2 separate regions of the Homo sapiens genome follow, and region 1 is linked to region 2. The links come from fine-mapping of genetic effects on gene expression. A gene starts in region 2. The other region holds a variant in brackets. All regions are shown on one strand. Distances are from middle to middle. Region 1 overlaps ZC3H18 (zinc finger CCCH-type containing 18). Region 2 holds the start of ZC3H18 (zinc finger CCCH-type containing 18).

Region 1 (12,200 bases), 25 kb before region 2:
CGCCACTGTGACACATGCACCCTGACCCTGTTCCCAGAGGTCCTGACTCACCAGGTCTCGGGGGAGGCATGGCACAAAAGGCCTCAGGTTAACTGTAACATACACAGAGGCTACTCTATAAAAACAAACAAAATACAAACATACAGAAATACCTGGCTTTCAGACACCAGTGAAAACCTTTCAGCCCTGACTGCCGAGACTTTAACATTTGGGGGTCCTGCAGTGTAGATACCGGCTCCTGGGAGAGAAGCTAGGGAGCCAGGAGCCAGCTTCTGTCACCTGGTGCCAGGATGGGAGACACCTGTTTCTGTAACCAACACTGATAGGTAAAACACACACAGAGGGCACTCCAAAAAACCTCAGAGACCTGCCGAACCACTTCCAAGCAGGCAGTTTTCCGGTCCCTGCTCCAGCCAGGGAAACTGGAAATAGAGTGTCAAGGATCACGCCCAGGTTCTAAAATCCATCCTTCCCCACACATATTTATAGAGACCTCTGTGCACACGAGCTCTGGGGAAGGAAAGACGATATCCACATCTAACAAAAAAACACAAAGGCCTCCAGGGCTTCAGGAGACACCCCTGGTGATCCTGCAGAGTTCTGACTCAAATGCTCCTTTCTGTGATCTGACATTCCACACAAAACTTAATTAGAAAATGTACATGTTAACCAAGTCTTTAAATACCTATCCCTTTAACCTCTAAGCTCTCACCTGCTGGGGCAGGTGTGGGCCACTGGGGCTTCCTCCCCCAACTTCCGCAGGCGGAAAGCCCAGGGTAGCCTGCTCGCGGCAAGAAGGCCTTGAGAAGGGCCTTGCAGGGCCAAGTCGACAGGACCAAATCCTGGAGTGCAAGCCCTGCACGCCTTCCTTTTTTGAGCACCGTTTATTGTCACTCCAGATAGAAATCATAGTGATTATGATTCCCTAATAGCAACCAGAAATGTACAGGGCTGCTAAAGCCTCAGCATGATGGAGTGCCAATTCAGATCTGCCCGAATTATAATCCAGTTCCCTGCCCTGAACCTCACCGTGCCATCCACAGGCAGAGGAAAACAGCACTTTATATGCCATGCAATCCCCCAAGATCTGACTTCCACCCTTCGACCCAGGCACTTCTTCTGTTAAGACAGGATTTTTAAAGACCAGGCATAAAGGGGCTGGGTGCAGTGGTTCACGCCTGTAGTCCCAGCACTCTGGGAGGCAGGCGTGGGTGGATCACTTGAGGTCAGGAGTTCGAGACCATCCTGGCCAACATGGTGAAATCCATCTCTACTAAAAACACAAAACTGAGTTGGGTGTGGTAGCAGACACCTGTAGTTCCAGCTACTCAGGAGGCTGAAGCAGGAGAATCACTTCAACCCAGGGAGGCGGAGGTTGCAGTGAGCCAAGATTGCGCAACTGCACTCCAGCTTGGGCGACAGAGCAAGACTCTGCCTCGGGAAAAAAAACCAAAAAACAAAAACCAGCCATCAATGCCCTGGAGGAGAAGCAGTGAAGGCAGAACAGCCCTGACAGCGAAGAGGCCGCAGCTGTTGTGTTCCTGGCTTGTGGCAACCTCCACACGTTTCCTGGCTCCTGGGTAATGTGGGCAGGGGTGAGGAGCCAGAAACACAGACTTGTGGGGCTCTAGAGGCCTCAAGGACAGCAGCGAAAACTCTCAGAGCTCAGGAACCACAACGGTGTGAGTGCTGCCAGTCAAGGCCCATGGCACAGAGCCCTAACGCTTCCTTCCTAGAAGCAAAAAACTGAGATGAGCTCTGAGAACCGTGCCTGAATGCTCTCAGGAACGTCACTGAGACTCCAGTGAGTGGGGCTGGGTCTCAGCCGAGCGCACCCTGGGGCCCTGCACATGGCTGCTCTCTCCGGAGCGTGGCCGCATGCAGGAAGGAAACGGAGGGGCAGGCAGGGCCATTCCTTACACTGTGTCTCTGACATCTCTCGGGATCCGAGAATTCCAATCTCGAAAAACTTCATTTTCTTTGTCAAATTCCCGTTCGTCTTCGCCAATGGTCACCGTAAACCTTTTCTCTTCAAAATCAGGCTCCTGTTCTTTTCGAATAGTTGCTTTTTTTAAAACCTACCATTGTAAGAAGAAAGAAGTCAACATGGAACAGAATACCGGGCGTCGCTGTTAGGAAACACAAAGGGAGCCGTCCCACCCGACCGCAGCAGCCCTGCAGGAGCAGGAGCTGCACGCTGCAAGTGCTCAAGGGGTGAGGGGCGGACACAGCACAGTTGTCCTTCTGGGGAGGGCAGTCTGTGCCCGTCTCTGCACAAACAGCTGCCCCCGGCCTCCGTGTGCCCACATGAGGTGTTCATCACTTCCTTCAACTACCCTTGGAACTAGATCCAGGGTTCAGTCACTCAGTGACAAGCAGCAGGTGGAGTGGCTGGAGTCTCAGAGGGAAGGAAGTGACATGCCGAGGGAGTGAGAAGGAACATCTTGTCCGTCATTTCCCAGCAGGGAGGCTGACCAGGAAAATGAGGAAGTGGGGCTGGGTGCCAGCAGAGTGGTCCCCAGAGCTGAAGCTCACACACTGGGGCCAACGTGGGCCTAGAGGGAGGAAGTGTGCAGTGATAGGACCAGAAAGCTCCAAGTTTTCTCCAGGAAGAGCAGACACTGAGTCTCAGGAGTGTGGGGTGCAGATCCTGGGGGTGCGGCTCGGGCAGCCTCGCCAGGCTTTCTGTGAGTGGCTGGAGACTGCACCCTGTGCTCCTGGGCAGTGCCAGCTGGGGTGTGGCCCAGTGCTGATCCAGCCCCATGAAGACAGTGGGTATGCCCTGGACTGAACTCCCTGGCCTACTGGGCTGCTGCCTGAGACAGTTAGATATAACTCTCCATCCTTCCGGGCCTGGTGGCGCATGCCTGTAATCCCAGCTACTTGGGAGGCCGAGCAGGAGAATCACATGAACCTGGGAGGCGGAGGCTGCAGTGAGTCGAGTTTGGGCCATTGCACTCCAGCCTGGGCAACAAGAGTGAAACTCTGTCTCCAAAAAAATAAATAAATAAAAAATAAAGAAAGACACCACAGAAACAGACGCCTAACTTCAGAGATTTCTGGGGCTCTCTCTGGACCGAGGAAATCCCAGTTTTGTCAAGAACCACTCCTGTAATAGCATCTTTCTTGTCGGGATTTCTGCTGAATTGTGTTTACCTCCTTTGCATGCCGGAGTCCTCGTTCCCAGGCACTCTCTGTTGGGGGCTCTGGAGGGGGTGGAGGCAAAATTTCATCAACTACCGGCCCACCCTATTGAAAAACGAGAAGGGAGAAGGTGAGAAAGTAAAACTTTCAAGTGTACAGAGAAACCAGACAGTAAAAACATCAACTACAACACAAGCCGGCCGTGTGTGGCCGCTCTCCTTCCACCAAGCCTCACTCCGTCCTCGGAAAGCCGAGGCCTGCTTCCACTCGGGACGACAGAAGCAGCCGAAAGGGGGCACTGAGCCTGTGCTAAGGCACAGTGACTTGTCTTAAGCTTGAGATTCAGACACAGCTCAGTTGGCTGATGTGCTAACAATGAAAGAAGAGGCATCACGCACCCAAGGGTTGGCGGGCATCAGCGGGTGAGGTCCGAGAGGCGGGGCACCATTAGGCGGGAAGGGGTCGGCTTTGGTGATTAGGGAGTAGTTCCCCTTGTCGTTCACTCCAGGGTGTATAAACCTACAATTCATTCCCCAGGTACAGTTCCCTATGGAAACAAAAGTGAGATCAGAAAGGGTCCACAAGAGCCTAATTGCACAAGGGCAGCTGCTGGGGTGGGGGGTGGGAGGGGGCAGAGGCCATGTTTACCCAGGCCTGATGGCGAGCCACACAGTAGTGGGAACTGAACGGGGAGGTGGGCGGGATGAGCCTGGAGAGGCTGAGCCAGACAGCTGCACCTGCCCAGGCACGGCAGTTCCCCAGAGGCTGCCAGGCACCTCGGTCAGAGTGACCACAAAGTCACTTTGTGGAGAGTTCACGCGTATCAACTGTCTGAGTATTAATTTTCCCCTTAAACCAGAAAAGCCCCAGAGCTTTGCTTCCAGCCCTGGCCCAGGCTCATCTAGGTACAACTGGATGTTAATTGTATTTGTGCCGAAACAGACATCAATGAGAAGCATTAACAATGATCAGAAGCCTGCAGGTGTGCTCAGGGTCCCCTTGGCCACCTCTGTACGTCTGCATTTCTCTCACAGAGAAAACTCTCACAGGGCATTTCAAGATATTTCTGGAACTGAAACGGGCTTTTACACTTTGCTCATAAATAACAATCACAAACCTTCATCTTCAACAGAATATCCGGGTTAGTAAAGGAGACCTCGACTTTCAAGTGTAGAATATAAGACATCTAAGTGTCTAACTCAATTACTGAGTGAATCACTTTTTTAAAATGTACTTTTTTGGGAATAGATAATGTGTACACATTGTTTAAAACCAAATATGGCATATAGTATCTAAGCGGTTTAAAAATTTTTTTCAATGGGTTAACATGCAGTTAGATTTTAAATCATTTAAAATTTTAACCTTAAACATCAGGAACACTTAAGCCTGCATTAAAACCAACTCAATACAACATAATAACAATATCGATCCAAATTAAACACGAAAGAAAACTTAAAACTGCTTCTCTGGAAATGCAAAAATGACAAGTAATTTTTAAAATTTCTAAAAGCATTTCAGAGATCACACATAAGTCAAACGAAGTTGGGAGGCCAGGCGTGGTGGCTCACGACGTCAAGAGATCAAGACCATCCTGGCTAACATGGTGAAACCCCGTCTCTACTAAAAAATACAAAAAATTAGCCGGACGTGGTGGCAGGTGCCTGTAGTCCCAGCTACTTGGGAGGCTGAAGCAGGAGAATGGCGTGAACCCAGGAGGTGGAGCTTGCAGTGAGCCGAGATCGTGCCACTGCACTCCAGCCTGGGCAACAGAGCGAGTCTCTCTCAAAAACAACAACAAAAAACAAAAGAGGTTGGGAAATGTTATTCTATAGGGGGTTCAAAAATCCAGAG[C/T]CTCAGAGAGATTTAAAGAAAAACTGACTATGCAGTCATCCATCTGAGACTCAACACACTACAGAGCTCTTCATGGTTTGCCTCTGAAAATACTCATGCAGTATTCAAAATCACGTGTGTAACTAAACAAGTAACAAAAGCTCATTGTAAAAAATGTCCAAGTACAGAAAAGTGCTGACAATAGAAACCACAGCTTTTCTGTACTCCTTTTCCTTTTTTTTTCAGATGGAGTCTCACTCTGACTGAGTGAGACAGTCCCAGGCTGGAGTGCAATGATGCAATCTCGGCTCACTGCAACCTCCACCTCCTGGGTGTCAGTGATTCTCCTGCCTCAGCCTCCTGAGTAGCTGGGATTACAGGCGGGTACCACCATGCCAGGCTAATTTTTGTATTTTTAGTAGAGACGGGACTTCACCAACTTGGTCAGGCTGGTCTCGAACTCCTGACCTTGTGATCTGCCAGCCTCGGCCTCCCAAAGTGCTGGGATTACAGGCGTGAACCACCACACTCGGCCTCTGTACTTCTTTTTCATCTAAAATATGTATCTGGGTGGTGGCTAAATGTTATCGTTCTTTTCTGTATTTATGAAAATTTTTAGGACATCACCTACGAACCTACTATCAAAAAAGATCCTTTCTCACTGATATTGGCATGGGGAGAAAAGAGGAACAAGGCAGAAGAGAACAAACCAGTGAGCGCCAAAGAGCAAGCTGAGAAGGCGAGCGTGGGGCTGCCACTAGAGACCAGACACTAGTGGGTGACAGTGTTCAGCTCTCGGGAGCCACCTGCCCGGGGGTGCTGAGCGCTGTCCTGCCCCTGGCCAGAGTAAAGGGGAAGATGGCTCTGGAAAGCAGCACAGTTGGTCTGCACGTCTAGCTGGGACACACTTCCAGCAGACGTCAGGCAGAAAGAACACCATTGTCCCATCTATCTTTTTAAAATGTGAACTTTTATCTGTGTAGGAACACACCCAACTGTCGGGAATGTGGGAAGGGGCTTTAGATTTTATTTTCTTGCCTTCTGCCAGCCCATATTACTTTCTTTCCTTTTTTTAATTTTTTTTTTTTTGAGATGGAGTCTCGCTCTGTTGCCCAGGCTGGAGTGCAGTGGAGCGACCTAGGCTCATTGCAACCTCTGCCTCACAGTTCAAGCAACTCTCCTGCCTCAGCCTCCCGAGTAGCTGGGATTACAGGTGTGCACCACCAAGCCCGGCTAATTTTTGTATTTTTAGTAGTGACAGGGTTTCGCCATGTTAGCCAGGCTGGTCTCAAACTCCTGAAGTCAGGTGATCCGCCCACCTCGGCCTCCCAAAGAGCTGGGATTACAGGTGTCAGCTACCGTCCCCAGCCTTACTTTCATAATTTAAAAAGCAATTTGTTAAAAAAAAAAAAAAAAAAAAGAAAGAAAGAAATTATCCAGAAAATAGAAGCAACAATAAAGATCTTCTGGTTTACAAATGGGACTTCAAACCCAAAATTTATGTGGATTGTGATTCTAACAGTATAAAGATAGTTCTGCGGATACTGTGTACACAGACATGGCCTCAGGCCAGAAGAGGACAAGGAGGGACAGAGGCCGCTGGAGCGGGGCGGAGGCGGCCCCTCCACTGCTGAAATGTCTAAGTACTATTTCTGGCTTCAAGACAGGATGATGGTCTTTTTCTTAACTGGAATGTCGGCACAGCAGCAACTGGTTTTTCTTTTGTTTTGTTTTTGTTTTTTTGAGATGGAGTTTTGTTCTTGTTGCCCAGGCTGGAGTGCAATGGCACAATCTCAGCTCACTGCAACCTCCGCCTCCCAGGTTCAAGTGATTCTCCTGCCTCAGCCTCCCGAGTAGCTGGAATTACAGGCATGCACCACCACGCCTGGCTAATTTTGTATTTTTAGTAGAAACGAGGTTTCTCCATGTTGGTCAGGCTAGTCTTGAGCTTGCGACCTCAGGTGATCCGCCCGCCTCGGCCTCCCAAAGTGCTGGGATTACAGGCATGAACCACCACGCCCAGCCAACTGTTTTATTCTCTTATTAATCTTTACGCTTGTGTAAACACTGTATTATTTTATATATATGAAATATTTCATAATCAAATGAAATACTTGTAAATAAAAAATACCCACCCACTCTAAAAGGTACACTGTGAAGTTGACCACCTATCCCATGCCTCCAGGGCCATTCCCAGAGGCAGTTATCAATATACTGGGGCTCCATCCATCAATCATTGCCCCCTTTTACCTGAGCATATATATTATGCTCTGTGCTGAACCTTGCTTTTTTTCACTAAACAATGTAACTACAGAAAGGGAACCTGCATGCTCAGTAGCAACCAACCCAAACTGGATCAGGGAAACAGACAGGAAACAGATAGGAAACATGGAAAATCCGGAAACTAAACACAGAGGTGGCAGGAACTGAGGCTCAGCTCATGCTCCAGCACAGCCCACACATGAAGTATCTTTAAATGTCTCTTCTGATTTTGAATACAGTAAATATCAATTCCCTGTGTTTACTTGGTTTATATGTGTCATTTCTATTGATACGTACGATATTAGAAATTAAGAGACACTTAAAGATATCTCATTATTTAACAATAACAAGATATCCAATATATAGTAACAAATATTTATGAAACTGTTTTTAAAATATTTGGTGAGAGGAATAGCATTCTTTGCCTTTTTGCGAATCTCTTGAATGCTGACCCTGGAAAACCCCTGGCCTCCCATCTGCATGCGATCGACCATGAAGGGCCGCTGTGGCTCAAGCAGGAGAGGACATTACAGCCCCAGGAAGAGATGCAGCTAGAGAGGGAGGGGCATCTAAAAGCCTTTTCAGTGTGCTCAGAGCTTCTCCCTGACACCGCACTCAGCAAGGGAAGGCTCCTTACAGCGAGCTGCAATTGAACCCTATCACCACACTTTTCCAACTTGGTTCTTCTGAAATCCATTGGTCTATCTTGAACTTTGAATGGGTCTTTTACCCAGGCATGATTCTGTGACATCCTGCAATGGTCACCTGAGAAAGTCCTGACACACTGAGAAGCTGGTGAGCACACAAAAGTCCAATTTTCAACTGAAAGCTCCAATTTTAATACTGCTAACACTGTCCGTTGTTCTCCTTGAAGCCACAGGCTCACTTTGTTCCTGCCAGGACCCGGATCTGCATTCCCTGGCATGTCTGCCAGTCTTTCTCATCAATGTGTGCTCCACGGAGAGCGCACAGGGTCAGCCGCAGCTCCAGCCTTGCACGTGCTGCCCCTTGAGGCCGCTGGACTTGGGTGCCGGCAGGGGCTCTACCCACGCTGCCACTCCACCACGCTGAGTACTGAGACACACACAGAAGCTCTGCTTTCTGGCTTTCCACAGTTTCAGTTACCTGCGTCTGAAAATACTAAATCGAAAATTCCAAAAATAATTCCTAAGTTTTAAATGATGTTCTGTGCTGAGCAGCGTGATGAAATCTTGTGCCGACCTCCTCTGCCCCACCTGGGACACGAATCATCCCTTTGTCCAGCAGATGCAAGCTGTCCACGACGCTAACTGCCCACTAGTCACTTAGCAGCCCTCTTGGCCAACAACCGTTGGGGGTACGGCGGTGCTGTGCTCACTGTGGCTCAGTGACCCAGGATCACTGGGGGCAGGTGACCTTCCTTCTGACGCATTGGCAGGAGGTCAAGGGGGGCCCAATGCTAAGTGGCAGGGCCTCCGTGTCATCATGCGAGCATATTTCATCCCACGTCATCAGATGGCTGAGTGGCTGAGTGCAGTAAAGTGAGCTCTTTTGAGAGATCACATTCACATTTTTATTACAATTGCTCTATTTTATGATTGGCTATTGTTGTTAATCTCTTACTGTGCGTAACTTATAAATTAAACTTTATCATAGGGATATGCTTATATAATCATGGAACTGTACACTTAAAATGGGTCAATTTCATGGCACATAAATATTACTTTAATAAAGTTTTTTAAAAAGAACTTACGAATAATAAAAATAAATAATACATCTGTACACAAGTGTAAGATTTAATTAAATTACAGTTCTTACTACTACAGCACAGACATGAAGTAAAGTGGCATTCGAAATGCCAGTGCATGGTGAATGCCTGGCTCAGCCTTACTGTTATTATAAATATAGTTTCGATTTGGGAGGCCAAGGCGGTCGGATCATTTGAGGTCAGGAGTTCGAGACCAGCCTGACCAACTGAAACACAAAATTTAGCCACTACTAAAATACAAAAATTAGCCAGGCATGGTGGCATGCGCCTGTAATCTCAGCTACTCGGGAGGCTGAGGCAGGAGAATCGTTTGAACCCGGGAGGTGGAGGTTGCAAGTGAGCTGAGATCACGCCATTGCACTCCAGCCTGGGCAACAGAGGGAGACTGTATCTCACAAAAGTAAAATAAAATGAAAGAAAAAGAAAAATAAATAAATATAGTTTTGACCTCAGGGTCCCCTGAAAGGGTCTCAAGGACTCCCAGGGGTTCACAGATGACACTCAGACCTGCTGCTTTAAACACAGTTTTGCAAGGATTCAAAACTGAGCAAAAGACATTTCTCCAAGAAGATACACAAATGACCTATTAAGCACATGAAAAAAGACACCCCACCACCCATCTTCAGGAAAGGCAGATCAAAACCCAGTAAGATATTACCTCCTACCCACTGAAATGGCTACTATCAAAAAAAAACAGAGAACAGAGTAATGGTGAGGACGTGGAGAAACTGGAAGCCCCCACACCACTGGTGGGAAAGTAAAATGGCACAGCCACTGTGGAAGACAGCTTGGCGGCTCCTCAAAACATGAAACATACAACCACCAGGTCATCAGCAACTCCACTGCCAGCGGCTCCGCAAAAGATGAAACACACAACCACCAGGTCATCAGCAACTCCGCTGCCAGCGGTTCCTCAAAAGATGAAACATACAACCACCAGGTCATCAGAAACTCCGCTGCCAGCGGTTCCTCAAAAGATGAAACACACAACCACCAGGTCATCAGCAACTCCACTGCCAGCGGTTCCTCAAAAGATGAAACACACAACCACCACGTCATCAGAAACTCCGCTGCCAGCAGTTCCACAAAAGATGAAACACACAACCACCAGGTCATCAGCAACTCCACTGCCAGGCACATGCGAAAGAGCTGAAAGCAGGGTCTGAAGAGATTTTTACGCCCACGTTCACAGCAGCTCTATTCACAATTGCCTAGAGGTGGAAACCACCCAAGTGTCCACCCACAGATGAGGGAAACACCCAATGCAGCTGCTCCACACTAACAAATATTGGTCAATCTTTTTTTTTTTTTTTGGAGACGGAGTCTCGTTCTGTTGCCCAGGCTGGAGTGCAGTGGTGTGATCTTGGCTCACTGCAACCTCCACCTACTGGGTTCAAGCGATTCTCCTGCTTTGGCCTCCCAAATAGCTGGAATTAGAGGTGTGCTCTACCACCCCCAGCTAATTTTGTATTTTTAGTAGAGACAGGGTTTCACCATGTTGAGCAGTCTGGTCTCGAACTCCTAACCTTGAGTGATCCACCCACCTCGGCCTCCCAAAGTGCTATGATTACAGGCATCAGCCACCGCACCTATTATTCAGTCTTAAAAAGACAGAAGGCCAGGTGCAGTGACTCACGCCTGTAATCCCAGCACTTTGGGAGGCCGAGGAGGGCAGATCACGAGGTCAGGAGATCGGGACCATCCTGGCTAACACAGTGAAACTCCGTCTCTACCAAAAACTACAAAAATTACCTGGGCGTGGTGGCGGGCGCCTGTAGTTCCAACTACTCAGGAGGCTGAGGCAGGAGAATGGCGTGAACCCAGGAGGCAGAGCTTGCAGTGAGCCGAGATGGTGCCACTGCACTCCAGCCTGGGTGACAGAGCAAGACTCCATCTCAAAAAAAAAAAAAAAAAGTATTCCACCACAATTTTAAAAAATTAGGGGGAGCACAGCCAAGGAGATCAGACCCAAAAAATGGACTGGGATGCTTGTTCACTGAGGGATAAATCAGAAGCCCAAAGTAGGGGCCGGGTGTGGTGGCTCACACCTGTAATCCCAGCACTCTGGGAGGCTGAGGTGAGCGGATCACCTGAGGTCAGGGGTTCGAGACCAGCCTGGCCAACATGATGAAACCCCATGTCTGCTAAAAATACAAAAATGAGTTGGGGGTGGTGGCAGATGCCTGTAATCGCAGCTACTCGGGAGTCTGAGACAGAAGAATAGCTTGAACCCAGGTGGAGGTTCCAACGAGCCGAGATCTCACCATTGCACTCCAGCCCGGGTGACAGAGCGAGACACTGTCTCAAAAAAAAAAAAAAAAGAAATAAAGAAACCCAAAGTGGGACACAGTTTAAAGAAGATGCTACTTACTCCTCTGTGGACAGAACTTTGTGTCCTGATGATCCAACACAGGCCCACGAGAGATAAAAACATCCCATGAAGAAGTACAGCTCCAGTTGTAGTGTATGTGCTGTGGAGCCGGGCAGGCGTACACAAAGCACTGATCTCTAAAATGTGAGCAAGGTGTGTTCCCAGTGCATTTTGCTGTCATTTGGTCACAAATCTCAATGTGTCCACTAAGCGATTAAATGATTAATCTCTATATCACAACGTGTCGGAGATAAAGCTAAGAGAGGCCTGAGCAGTGGCTCATGCCTGTCATCCCCATACTCTGGGAGGCTGAGGTGGAAGGATTGCTTGAGCCTAGTATTTGAGACCAGCCTGAGCAATATAGTGAGATCCCATCTCTACAAGTAATTTAAAAAAGAAAGATGAGCTCTTGCAATGTTGCCCAGGCTGGTCTCTAACTCCTGGGCTCAAGTGATCCTCCCCATTCAGCTTCCCAAAGTGCTAGGATTCCAGGTATGAGCTACCATGCCCAGCCACCGACTTTTTTCTAAGAAAAGAATTTTCTAATTGTGACACAATTCACATAACATAAAATACTCCCATTTAATGTGTACAATTCACTGGTTTGCAGTATATTCACAAAGTTGTGTAAGCATCACCACTAGCTAGTTCTAGAACATTCCATCACCCCAAAGAGGAAATCCTGTACTCACTAGCTATCACTCTCCACCCCCAGTCCAGGCAACGAGGAATCAATCTACTTTCCGTCTCTGTGGATCTGTGGCCTTCTGTGCTCCCTTCTGTCACTCAGCACGTCTTTAAGGCTCGTCCACATTGTGGCATGAGTCACAATCTACTTTCTGTCTC
Region 2 (12,200 bases):
GCTAAGCTGGGTGTTAAGTGCCTCCCGTTTTTGGCAATCTGGCAAAATGAGATGTGGCAGAAGGAGACGCAGCCTGGCCTAGCCCTTCCCCGCTCAAGGGCAGCCCACACGAGTTAACAGAAAGTGAGTAACGATACGGATCGCAAAGGACAGCTGTGTGAATTCTTAGAGGAGTATTTACTTTTGAAATTAAAGATAAACTGTATCATGGAACGAGGAAGCAAAACTGCAGGCCCAGATCTCACCATTTTTCTGGAGTCATCCTGAAGCAGGAACCTGGGCCAGCCTTCGGCAGTGTCCAAGTCTGGAGCCTTTTCTGTTACTGAACACACTTCTCGAAGGCCAGCCTCTGAGGGCCTCCGAGAATCCCTTGGCTGCCCTTTAGCAATGCAGGCTCAGAGCCCTGCCTGCGTGTTCACTGGCCCCTCCAGCAGGTGTCGAGAGGGCTGTGTTCACCCGCTCAGCAACTCACACTCCTAAGTTGAGAACCCCTCTTCCCATACAGGTAGCTGCTGTCGAAAAGAACTCTGGCAGGAAACTTGACACACTTAAGTACCGCGCGTATGTAAAAGACGAGGCTGGCCAGGTACGGTGGCTCGCATCTACAATCTCAGCACTTTGGGAGGTTGCAACGGGAGGATCATTTGAGCCCAGCAGTTCGAGACCAGCCTGGGCAACATGGTGAGACCCTGTCTCTGTAAAAAAAAAATACTAAAATTCAGGCCAGGCGCGGTGGCTCACACCTGTAATCCCAGCACTTTGGGAGGCCCGAGGCAGGTGGATCATGAGGTCAGGAGATCGAGACCATCCTGGCTAACACGGTGAAACCCCGTCTCTATGAAAAATACAAAAACTTAGCTGCACGTGGTGGCAGGCGCCTGTAGTCCCAGCTATTCAGGAGGCTGAGGCAGGAGAAAGGCGTGAACCCAGGAGGTAGAGCTTGCAGTGAGCTGAGATCGCGCCACCGCACTCCAGCCTGGGCGACAGAGTGAGACTCCGTCTCAAAACAAAAACAAAAACAAACAAACAAACAAAAACTAAGTCACAGAGTGTGGTGGTGCGTGCCTATATTCCCAGCTACTTGGGAGTCTGACGCAGGAGGATCGCTTAAGCCCAGGAGGTGGAGGCTGCAGTAAGCCAAGACTGCATCAATGTGCTTCAGCCTGGGCAACAGAGTGAGACCAATCTCCAAAAAAAACTCAAAAAACAAAAAAAGACGGGGTCACTTCAGACTTCATTCCTATTTTTACTAATCCAGATTAAATTATAAAGTTAATATTTTCGAGTTTCCCTCCTCAAAAACTCATAGAAAGTACACTGCTACCCATGCTTTAAAAGTGGACGGTGTTAAGACGGGTAGGAAGGTGTAGAACGGCAACACCTGCCTGGCAAACACTTGCCACACCACCACTACCAGGGCAGCTAGTCACCACCAAGTGAGTGTGGAGCAGCAGGGACAGTGCCAGGTCAGCGGTCACTTGACTGTTCAGTCTGTGAGGCTGTTAAAATAACGTATGTCACGGTCACACTGCTCGGCATCTCGGCAAGGTCTGGAAACAGATTATTCATCTCAAGATAACTACGGACGCAGCAAGTCATACACATACACATTTATATGTCTTGTATCTCAAATAACCATACACACTAAAGATAAAAATATTCATCTTTTAAATTTATACTTTTAATACAACCTGTTTAAAGATGCACAGTATCAAGAATTGGTATCAACCTACAGTTAAACATTTTTTTTTTTTGCTGTTAATGGAAATCATTAAGATTAAGTACACATTAGAGGCCGGGCACGGTGGCTCACGCCTGTAATCCCAGCACTTTGGGAGGCCGAGGCGGGTGGATCACGAGGTCAGGAGATCGAGACCATCCTGGCTAACACGGTGAAACCCCGTCTCTACTAAATATACAAAAAATTAGTCGGGTGTGGTGGCGGGTGCCTGTGTTCCCAGCTACTCGGGAGGCTGAGGCAGGAGAATGGCGTGAACCCAGGGGGCGGGGCTTGGAGTGAGCCGAGATCGCGCCATTGCACTCCAGCCTGGGCGACAGAGCGAGACTCCGTCTCAAAAAAAAAAAAAAAAGATACATTAGAACAAATTGGTCAGGTGCGGTGGTTCATGCCTGTAATCCCAGCACTTTGGGAGGCTGAGGTGGGCGGATCACTTGAGTCCAGGAGTTCTAGACCAGCTTGGGCAACATAGCAAAACCCCATCTCTACCAAAAAAAAAAAAAAAAAAAAAAAAAATTAGCTGGGTGTGGTAGGGCACCTGTCGTCCCAGCTACTTGGGAGGCTGAGATAGGAGGATCACCTGATCCTAGGAGGTTGAGGCTGCAGTTCAGCCTGGGTGACAGAGTGAGACCCTGACTCAAACAAAAAACAAAAAAGCCAAAAAAACCCAAATCTGGCCAGGCGTGGTGGCTCGCGTCTGTAATCCTAGCACTTTGGGAGGCCAAGGCAGGTGGATCATCCGAAGTCAGGAGTTCAAGACCAGCCTGGCCAACATGGTGAAACCCGGTCTCTACTAAAATACAAAAATTAGCTGGGCATGATAGCAGGTGCCTGTTATCCAAGCTACTTGGGAGGCTGAGACGAGAGAATCGCTTGAACCTGGGAGACAGTGGTTGCAGTGAGCCGAGATCACACCACTGCACTCCAGCCTAGGTGGTGGCTAAGCGAGACTCCGTCTCAAAAGAAAATTCAAATCATTTAAAATTCATCACTTTATAAAAACTAAATGGGCCAAGGGTGGTGGCTCACGCCTGTAATCCCAGCACTTTGGAAGACTGACGCGGGTGGATCACCTGAGGTCAGGAGTTCAGGACAAGCCCGGTCAAAATGGTGAAACCTTGTCTCTACTAAATATACAAAACATTAGCTGGGCATGGTGGTGGGCATCTGTAATCCCAGCTGCTCGGGAGGCTGAGGCAGGAGAATTGCTTGAACTCGGGGGGGCGGAGGTTGCAGTGAGCCAAGATTGTGTCATTGCTCTCCAGCATGGGCAAAAAGAGCAAAACTCCGTCTCAAAAAAAAAAACCTAAATGGTTAGCAATAACATAGATTTACAAACCAACCAATCCATTCCAAGTCACTTAAAAGCAGACAGTTCTGAAAATGATTCACTTTTTGGTTTTCTAAGTACACTATTCGGTTACTATCCAGAGACAGGACTACTGGGAGGAATTATTAAAAAGTCAGTCCTAAGCCAGGAGTGGTGGCATGTACCTGGAATCCCGGCTACTTGTGTGGTTGAGGTGGGAGAATCACTCGAGCCCAAGAGTTCGAGTCCAGCCTAGATAACATGGTAAGACCCTCGTCTTTTTATTAAAGGTAGTCCTAAACTGGTATACACTGCTGAAAATGGGAAAGTCAAGGAGCTGATCCCCAAACAGTATCACAGGGGCGCTTGATGCACAGAGCATTTCTGCAGCCCAAGGCAACAAAAGCAAGGATGAAAAGCACCAAGGCTGCTAAGGCCTCTACGCACTGACTGTTCAAGACTGGGAGTCTGCGTGGGGTTGTGGCAGTAAGTCACCGGTGGCAAACTGGCAATTCTCTCTCTTGCCTAGCTATCGACATTAGTAACACCCTATACTATCTTCGTACACTTTTTATTACAATGTATAAACATCTTCCTCATAGAAGGGCAGGTAGTTCACATCTCCCCAGCTGCCTAAGCGGAGCGCCTGGTGCCCAGTAGGATGCCCCAAGCTGAACCCAGACCTGAAATATGACAAATTCTGATTCTCATGTTTTATAGTTTAATGTCAACCTTGGAAACAAAGTGATCTCTTAAATAAACCAACTTTTATGCAAAACTAAATGTCTCCTCAAACTAGTTTTAAAAATCACACAATTGGCTGGGTGTGGTGGCTCATGCCTGTAATCCCAGCACTTTGGGAGGCTGAAGCGGGAGGATCACGAGGTTGGGAGTTCGAGATCACCTTGGCCAACACAGTGAAACCCCTGTCTCTACTAAAAATACAAAAATTAGCTGGGCATGGTGGCACGTGCCTGTAGTCCCAGCTACTCAGGAGGCTGAGGCAGGAGAATCACTTGAACCCAGGAGGAGGAGGTTGCAGTGAGCCGAGATCATGCCACTGCACTCCAGCCTGGGTAGCAGAGTGAGACTCCGTTTCAAAAAATAGTAATAAGGTGCTACGAAGGGAAACGTGGCCTCTTAAGTGTAGACAATGAAATGAGAAGTGTAGACAGGGGTGTCAGTAGAAGAGTCTCAACTGATACCCACGTTTGCAATTTGTGCTCAGTTTGGTCTTCTTACACTATCTATAACTGAAGATTTTCAGCACAATTTAGAACTAAATCCTTAGTCCTCTGATCCACCAGATGGGTGAACTTGCCTAAGGAATGAAATAACAAGTGCCCATCGTCCCGTCTCCGTTGCTTTCTGCATTTGGCAGATGATACTTGATAGATATTTGTTGAATACATGACAAAAAACTCGTTAATTGAGGAACTACCTGTTGCCTACCAGAAAGGAATTTAAAATAAGTGCCCAGGAGGAGGAGGTTGCGGTGAGCCGAGATCCTGCCACTGCACTCCAGCCTGGGCAACAGAGTGAGACTCCGTCTCAAAAAATAATAGTAATAATAAAGAGCAGGTGCTACCTCCCTTCCGAGCAGCCCCTCTGGGAGGATGCACAGACTCCAACGGCACTGCTGAAATGCAGAGCGTTTGGGGACCTTCTCATTGCGAATGACCTTCCAAGCCTAAAGAAGTCTTCTGGTATTCTTAGTGGTGGCAAATCTTCCTCCTCTCAAGCTAGTCACTTTGATAAAGTGCTGCAAGTCAGAGTCTCACCTGATAAGGTGAGCTACCAACCACGTAAGTAAACTTTTGGTCAAACCTGGAGGGTGACTATTGAATAAGACTGATTTTCCCATATGACTACATTTTTACTACCACAACAGGAGTTCTAAAGAGATTCTGGCAAAGAAGCACCGATGAAATACAAGCACATTTTGGGACAATTACTTTCAACAGAGCAGTACCTATTTGAATGCCTAAGTTCTGGTACATCTGGTTAAAATTCTGACTCATAACCTCATGGACTTAAAATATCTAAATGAACGTTATCAAGGTTGGTGACAGACCCCACGTGCAAAGTGACCAAGCGTGACCACTAAACTCCTTGATAAAGAGGTACTCACCTTGAGATGCTCTGTAGCTGTGACAAAATACAAATCTCTGTAAACACGATGTAGGCCATAGGTTAACTTACCTGTTTGCTTTCTGGAGTGACTCCACAAAGCTTTCTTACAATATTTCAGCATGTCCCACCTACAACGGGAGAGGAGTTTCCGGCTTTGGGACACATTTGACTGGTTCCAGGGCTGGCTGGGCTCCATACTGCCCTTAGATAGTAAAATTATCAGGAAAAGACTCTCCTCCCAAAGCTGGGAAGCGGGATTCAGCCGAGGTCAAACCTCACCCGGATAATCCCAACTACTGAACGGGAAAGGACTACTCTACAGACAACAGGCTGGAGGTGAGTCTAACAGGAGACATGATGAGCACCTTGCTACACCCCAAACGGTACTTCAGATGCCAAACACTCTCTTCTTCCATTTTCCCAAATGGGTCTGAAGAATGACCTACTCTTGCAAATGAGTTAGCGTTGTTCGAACAAAGCTCATTTAAAACGGCCACTCTACCCGGCAAACTCAGTTGTCATAAAGTATTCAGGAAAAATGTTTGGCAGGAGTAAGGCTGTTAAGTTTCAGTTCTTCCAGCATTATAGCTGCAGTTGGTCTATATAAAGGACCCAGCACCTCTGATCTCCTAATCCAAGGGGCAAGGAAGTTACATACTCCTAAGAGACCGGCGCGCGTCTTGGGGCAATCACTGCGCCCAACCTGTGCACACTTTGAAGCTGCGGAGCAAGTTCCAGGAGGTTCATAAAGAGCTCAAAGTTCTCCGAAGAGCCCAGCAGCAGCCCGGGATGACCTACTCTGGAGGTGAATCTGGGCGCCTCTCACCGCCCCTTAGCCGGCGGCACACATGTGCCACGCGAGTGGCCCGGAAGAGAAATGACAGCTTCAGGAAAATAAACTCTGCCGCGGGGCGCGGAGGCAGCGCGCGAGGAGCTCGGGCGCCCAGGGCGCCCCAGGACCGCGGGGCCGGCTTACGGACGGAACTCGGGGTGGTGCCTGTCTCAAGGTCCCCTTCCCTGGGCCCGAGGGCCACGCTTCGGCCGGTGGGTCCGCACGGCCGGAGGCGCGCCGGGCTCCCGGGCCTCCCTCCCGCGGCCGCCGCCGCCGCCTCGGCGGCCTCCTCCTCCCGCCGCCGCCGGCCCGGCCTCCCGCCGCCCTCCCGGCCCCAGCTAACCTCAGCGCTAGGGCGGAGAGGAGGCCACGGCTCCCCTGGAGTCGGAGCGGCGTGGAGAAGACGTCCCTTGGCCCTTCCGCTCTTCACAGGTTCTGGCTCCAGGCTCGACACGGGCGGAACAAACGGGCTCCACTACCCGCGGGGGCCGGCCATTGTGCGACGTCATCAGGCCGCGACGGTAGTCCTACGGCCGGCGGGCTTCCCTCCCTCGCCCCGCCCCCTCCAGCTTCCTTCCGGCCTCCGCGCGGTTCCGCCCCCGCAGCGCGCGCCCGGACCCGCGCGAGCCAGCCGAACCCCCGCTACAGCGCAGGCGCCACGGGGAGTTCGCTTCTCAGGCGGCGGGCGTGCGGATCCGCGCCTGCGCACAGAGCTCCCCGCGGCCGCCGGGTCACGTGACGGGGCTCCGGCTGGGCCGGCGGGTTCTTCATCCCCGGGGATGATCGAGTTCATCAAAGTGGAAAACTTAAGGCGGTCTTCGTCGGGCTGATACTTCCTGCTTTATTGAATGTTGATATTAAATGCTTACCTCCGGAATTATTTTTTGAGGTATCGACTTTAGATTAAAAGCCTAACAATTCTTACCTTTCCCGTGGGCTGCCTGGCTCCCCGCGCGGTTCAACGCGAGCAGCGCCAGTGAGGGGACCTGTCGCGTGTCCTGCTCAGCGCGGTGTCCCACGGGCGCGTCCACAGCCCGGGGCGTCCAGGGGCTGCAGCGGTGCGAGCTGCTCTAGAGACGGAGGGCCCGGCCGGAGACCAGGGGCCGGCGGTTTCATCCTGCGCTGACCCTTGCCAACGACGTGGCTGGTCCTGGGGATCACAGGGCTTCGCTCATCCCATCTTCCTCCATATCCCCAAGGTGGAAACAAGGGGGCGAGATGTCCACAAACTGAGGAACAGACAAAATGCTGGCTGTCCATGCAGTGGAGTGTGAGTCAGTCATCAAGAAGAGTGAAGTTCAGACCCATGCCACAACATGGGTGAACCTTGGAAACATACTAAGTAAAGCAAGCCAATCGCAAAAGGACAAAACCTGTGCGACTCCATGCTATGGACCGAGTTCTGTCCCCCTAACATTTGTATGTGAAGCCTTAATCCCCAATGTGACTGTGTTTGCAGAAAGGGCCTTTAGAGAAGTAATTAAGGTTAAATGAGATTATAAGGGTGGGGTCCTGATCTGATAGGATTAGTGTCCTTGGAAGAGGTACCACAGGCCTGGCACTGTGGCTCACACCTGTAATCCTAGCACTTTGGGAGTCCAAGGTGGGAGGACCACCTCCTCCAGGAGTTTGAGACCAGCCTGGGCAACAAAGCAAGACCCCTGTCTCTACAAAAAAATTAACAGGGCACCGTGGTGCGTGCCTGTAGTCCCAGCAACTTGTTATGGTTACGTAAGAGGAATGTGAATTCAACCCTGGTGATTTTGGGTCGTGTCAGGAGCAGCCCTGCGACACCAGTTGGCACCTTCTGCAGACTCTATGTGTCGATAAGACAAGGTCCCACCCAGCAAGTGCCCTTTTCTCAGCTGATGAACATAAGCCTGCATGGACGTTACTGTCCATGGAAAGGAGCGGCCGGCACCGGCTGTGACAGACACGTGCCTGTCTGCGATCTGAGTTTCATGAACAGTAAACTCTGTTGGTCACAGCCTCTTTGGAAAACAATGTTAGTTAAAAGAAGTGCCCTGTGACCAGCAGTGCCACCCTCGACAGGGTTCTCCAAGTGGGACCCGGGCAAGCAGCCTCAGTATCACTAGGGGTTGTTAGCAATGTGCCTTCCTGGGCTCTGCCCCAGAGTGGCCGCACCAGTGACTGGGAGTGAGGTCCCAGGGCCCTGTGGTCCATGAAGAGCTCTCAGGGGATTCTGATGCCCAGTGGTACAGGTGGGCCACCGGACTGGGGTGTCATCTGCCCGTGGGCATGAGACATGAACAAGGACATAGCAGGTCTGTTAGTAGTCATAACTAAAAGAACAAAGGAGCCGGGCACGGTGGCTCATGCCTGTAATCCCAGCACTTTGGGAGGTCGAGGCGGGCAGATCGCGAGGTCAGGAGATCGAGACCATGCTGGCTAACACAGTGAAACCCCGTCTCTACTAAAAATACAAAAAATTAGCCGGGCGTGGTGGCGGGCGCCTGTAGTCCCAGCTACTCGGGAGGCTGAGGCAGGAGAATGGCATGAACCCGGGAGGCGGAGTTTGCAGTGAGCCCAGATCATGCCACTGCACTCCAGCCTGGGCAACAGAGCGAGACTCCGTCTCAAGAAAAAAAAAGAACAAAGGAAAAAACCAGAAAACCACCCAGATGTTGATGAGCAGATGATTGTACTGTTGTAATAGTAATCTGGTACAACATTTGCAACATCGCGGTTGTTAAAAATGCTAACGCATGAACCTCCAGTGTGTATACACAGATATAAATAAACGGGTGAAGACCATCTGTGAGGTTGCATGACAAAGGCAAGTGCAGAAGCAGACAGGGTGGGCACATTTCTTTTCTTTCTTTCTTTCTTTTTTTTTTTTTTTGAGACAGAGTCTCACTCTGTCGCCCAGGCTGGAGTGCAGTAGCGCCATCTCGGCTCCCTGCCACCTCCGCCCCCTGGGTTCAAGCGATTCTCCTGCCTCAGCCTCCCGAGTAGCTGGGACTACAGGCGCCCGCCACCACGCCCGGCTAATTTTTTTGTATTTTTAGTGGAGACGGGGTTTCACCGTGTTAGCCAGGACGGTCTCGATCTTCTGACCTCGTGATCCTCCCGCCTCGGCCTCCCAAAGTGTTGGGATTACAGGCGTGAGCCACTGCGCCCGGTCCACGTTTCTATCAAATTGAAATCATGAGCGGTTTTGCTGAGGGTGTGGGGCACCCAGAGCCTGCGGCCTGTGCTCGAGTGAAAATGGTGGCCCCGCTCCAGAAGCCTGCGACGGCGCTCACGGAACCGCAGCCTTCGTGCGGCGGCACCTGGGCCGTGCTACTCCTCTGTGACTTCCCGGAAGAGATGAGCTGCTACGTCCAGCAAAAGGCACATCCAAGATCGTTCACCCCAGCATGACTCGTTACACTCCGGACTAGAAGGAACCCCAAGGTGCTTCAGTGACAGAACGATGAACCAGCTGGGGTGTAACCCCCATGCAATGGAATATCGTACAGGAACGAAAAGGACACGCTACCCCTACAAGCAACATGGATCTCAGAGGCAGGATGTTGCGCAGAAGAAACCAGACACAAATGCTTCGGCTCGTGTTGCTGCGACTCATTACAGGCAGCCGAATCTGCGGTGATGGGGGCCCCAGGAGCAGTGACCAGGAGGCAGTGCCACGGAGCCTGCGGTGGGGGCTGATAGTCAGTAGCGTGACCTGGTTGGGATGTTCTGTTTTTAAGCTGGAGTCCATCATGTTTGTTTATTTGTTCATTTCGTAGAGGTGGGGGTCTTGTAGAGGTGGGGGTCTCACTCTGTTGCCCAGGCTGGTCTCAAACTCTGGGCCTCAAGCGATCCTCCCACCTTGGCCTTCCAAAGTGCTGGGATTACAGGTGTGAGCCACTGCATAAGGCCGTTATTGTTATTAGTGCTTAAAAATATTTAGTAAACATTTTATTTAGCCTAAAAACCATTCAGAGAGCAGAGGCTGGATGGAACACGGCGTGCCAGGCGGTGAGAGCACAGACCCTCCTCTTCCAGAGCAGGAAGTGGGTAAATGACTTTTAAGCCTCATTTCTGGGGTGGCAAAACTCTTCTGTATGAAGAAGTACAAATATGTAATGTCCCATAATGGCAGCTATGGGACGTTACGTATTTGCCAAAACCCACATAACGCACAACGCCAAGAGTGAACTGTAATGTAAACTGTGGACTTAAGTCAATGATCGTGTCCCGATACGGGCTGGTTGGTTGTGATGCAGGGCAGGTGAGGCCCAAAGTGGAGCTTAGCCTGCCAGCGTTCTTGGCTTTGCCCAAGAAAGAATTCAAGGACAAGCCGGAGGTAGAAGAGAACAACTTGATTGAAGAGGCAGTGTGGCAGGTCCGTGACGGCTCCTGCAGAGCTGGGCTGCCCAGAAGGCAGAGAGCAGCAGCTCAACGCACTTCTGCAGACCCATTATACCCACTTTTAATTACATGCAGATTAAGGGGCAGTTTATGCAGAAATTTCTGGGGAAGGAGTAGTCACTTCTGGGTCACTGAGTCATTGCCATGGAAAGGGGTGGGAGTGTTGCCATGGCGATGGTAAACTGACACAGAACACTGGTGGGTGTGTCTTTTTTTTCTTTTCCTGAGACGGAGTCTCCCTCTGTCACCCACATTAGAGTGCAGTGGCCTGATCTCGGCTCACCACAACCTCTGTCTCCTGGGCTCAAGCAATTCTTCTGCTTCAATCTCCTGAGTAGCTGGGGCTGCAGGCATGGGACATCATGCCTGGCTAATTTTTGTATTTTTAGTAGAGACAGGGTTTCACCATGTTGGCCAGGCTGGTCTCAAACTCCTGACCTCTGGTGATCTGCCTGCCTGGGCTCCCAAAGTGCTGGGATTACAGGCATGAGCCACTGCGCCCAGTCTGGTGTGTCTTATAAAAAGCTGCTTCTGCCCTGCCCTGTTTTAGCCAGTCCTGTTTGGTCCCAGCTCCAAGCCCTGCCTCTGGAGTCAAGTCCTGCCTCCTATCTCAATTGTAATAAATGTTCTGCACCAGTGCAGGGTGTTAATAAGAGGGGAGATGGGCAGGGGTGCTGGGGGTACAGGGGAACTCTGCTCATTTTTCTTTTTTTTTTTTGAGATGGAGTCTCACTCTGTTGCCCACCCTGGAGTGCAGTAGCGCAATCTCGGCTCACTGCAAGCTCCACCTCCCAGGTTCACGCCATTCTCCTCAGCCTCCCGAGTAGCTAGGACTACAGGCGCCCATCACCACGCCTGGCTAATTTTTGTGTATTTTTTAGTGGAGACGGGGTTTCACCATGTTAGCCAGGATGGTCTCGATCTCCTGACCTCGTGATCCACCCGCCTCAGCCTCCCAAAGTGCTGGGATTACAGGCGTGAGCCACTGTGCCTGGCCTCTCATTTTTCTTTAAACCTAAAACTGGTCTAAAAAATTAATTTCATATTTTTTTTTTCACAAGAATGTGGAGCAACTAGAATCACGTACTCTGCTGCTGGGAGTGTGACTAGTGCCCTTATTAAGAAAAAGTCAAGAAACATTGGTATGAATATTACTGGAGATCGGGAAAATGCCGGAAGAGACCATGAAAAGAGTTAAAACTTGTTGCCAATTGGGGGTGGAAACTGGGAGGGAAGAGGCAGGAAGCTAGTTTTAAAAATCAACTTTAGGCCAGGTGTGGTGGCTCATGCCTGTAATCCCAGCACTTTGGGAGGCCGAGGCAGGTAGATAACCTGAGGTCAGGTGTTCGAGACCAGCCTAGTCAACATGGTGAAACCTTGTCTCTACTAAAAATACAAAAATTAGCCGGGTGTGGTGGCGGGCACCTGCAATCGTAGCTACTCGGGAGGCTGAGGCAGGGGAATCACTTGAACCCAAAAGGTAGAGGTTGCAGTGATCCAAGATTGCGCCACTGCCCTCCAGCCTGGGCGACAATAGCAAAACTCTGTCTCAAAACGACAACAAAAAACAACAAAAAAACCCCAACTTTATTGAGTTGGGGTTTGCCAAAATGAACACTTTTTTTTTTTTTTTTGAGACGGAGTCTTGCACTGTTGCCCAGGCTGGAGTGCAGTGGCGCAATCTCGGCTCACTGCAACTTCTGCCTCCTGGGTTCCATCGATTCTCCTGCCTCAGCCTCCTGAGTAGCTGGGACTACAGGGGTGCGCCACCACGCCTGGCTAATTTTTGTATTTTTTAATAGAGACGAGGT

What was found.
Region 1: its variant is fine-mapped to the expression of ZC3H18 in whole blood (INTERVAL, PIP 0.97).

Annotation. Positions count from the first base shown.
Region 1 is chr16:88,589,669-88,601,868 of GRCh38, reverse strand. It overlaps ZC3H18 (zinc finger CCCH-type containing 18), which reads right to left. Exons shown (of 18, transcript NM_144604.4): 4 at 3,543-3,691; 5 at 3,157-3,249; 6 at 1,921-2,078. Among named protein-coding and RNA genes, the nearest start is that of ZC3H18, 25 kb to the right of the region's middle. RefSeq lists enhancers at 9,909-10,158, 12,054-12,200. The variant C/T (reference allele first, on the strand shown) is at 4,996.
Region 2 is chr16:88,564,722-88,576,921 of GRCh38, reverse strand. ZC3H18 (zinc finger CCCH-type containing 18) reads right to left here and starts at 6,519. Exons shown (of 18, transcript NM_144604.4): 1 at 6,356-6,519. RefSeq lists enhancers at 5,929-5,978, 7,069-7,118, 7,229-7,338 and silencers at 6,249-6,318, 6,499-6,828.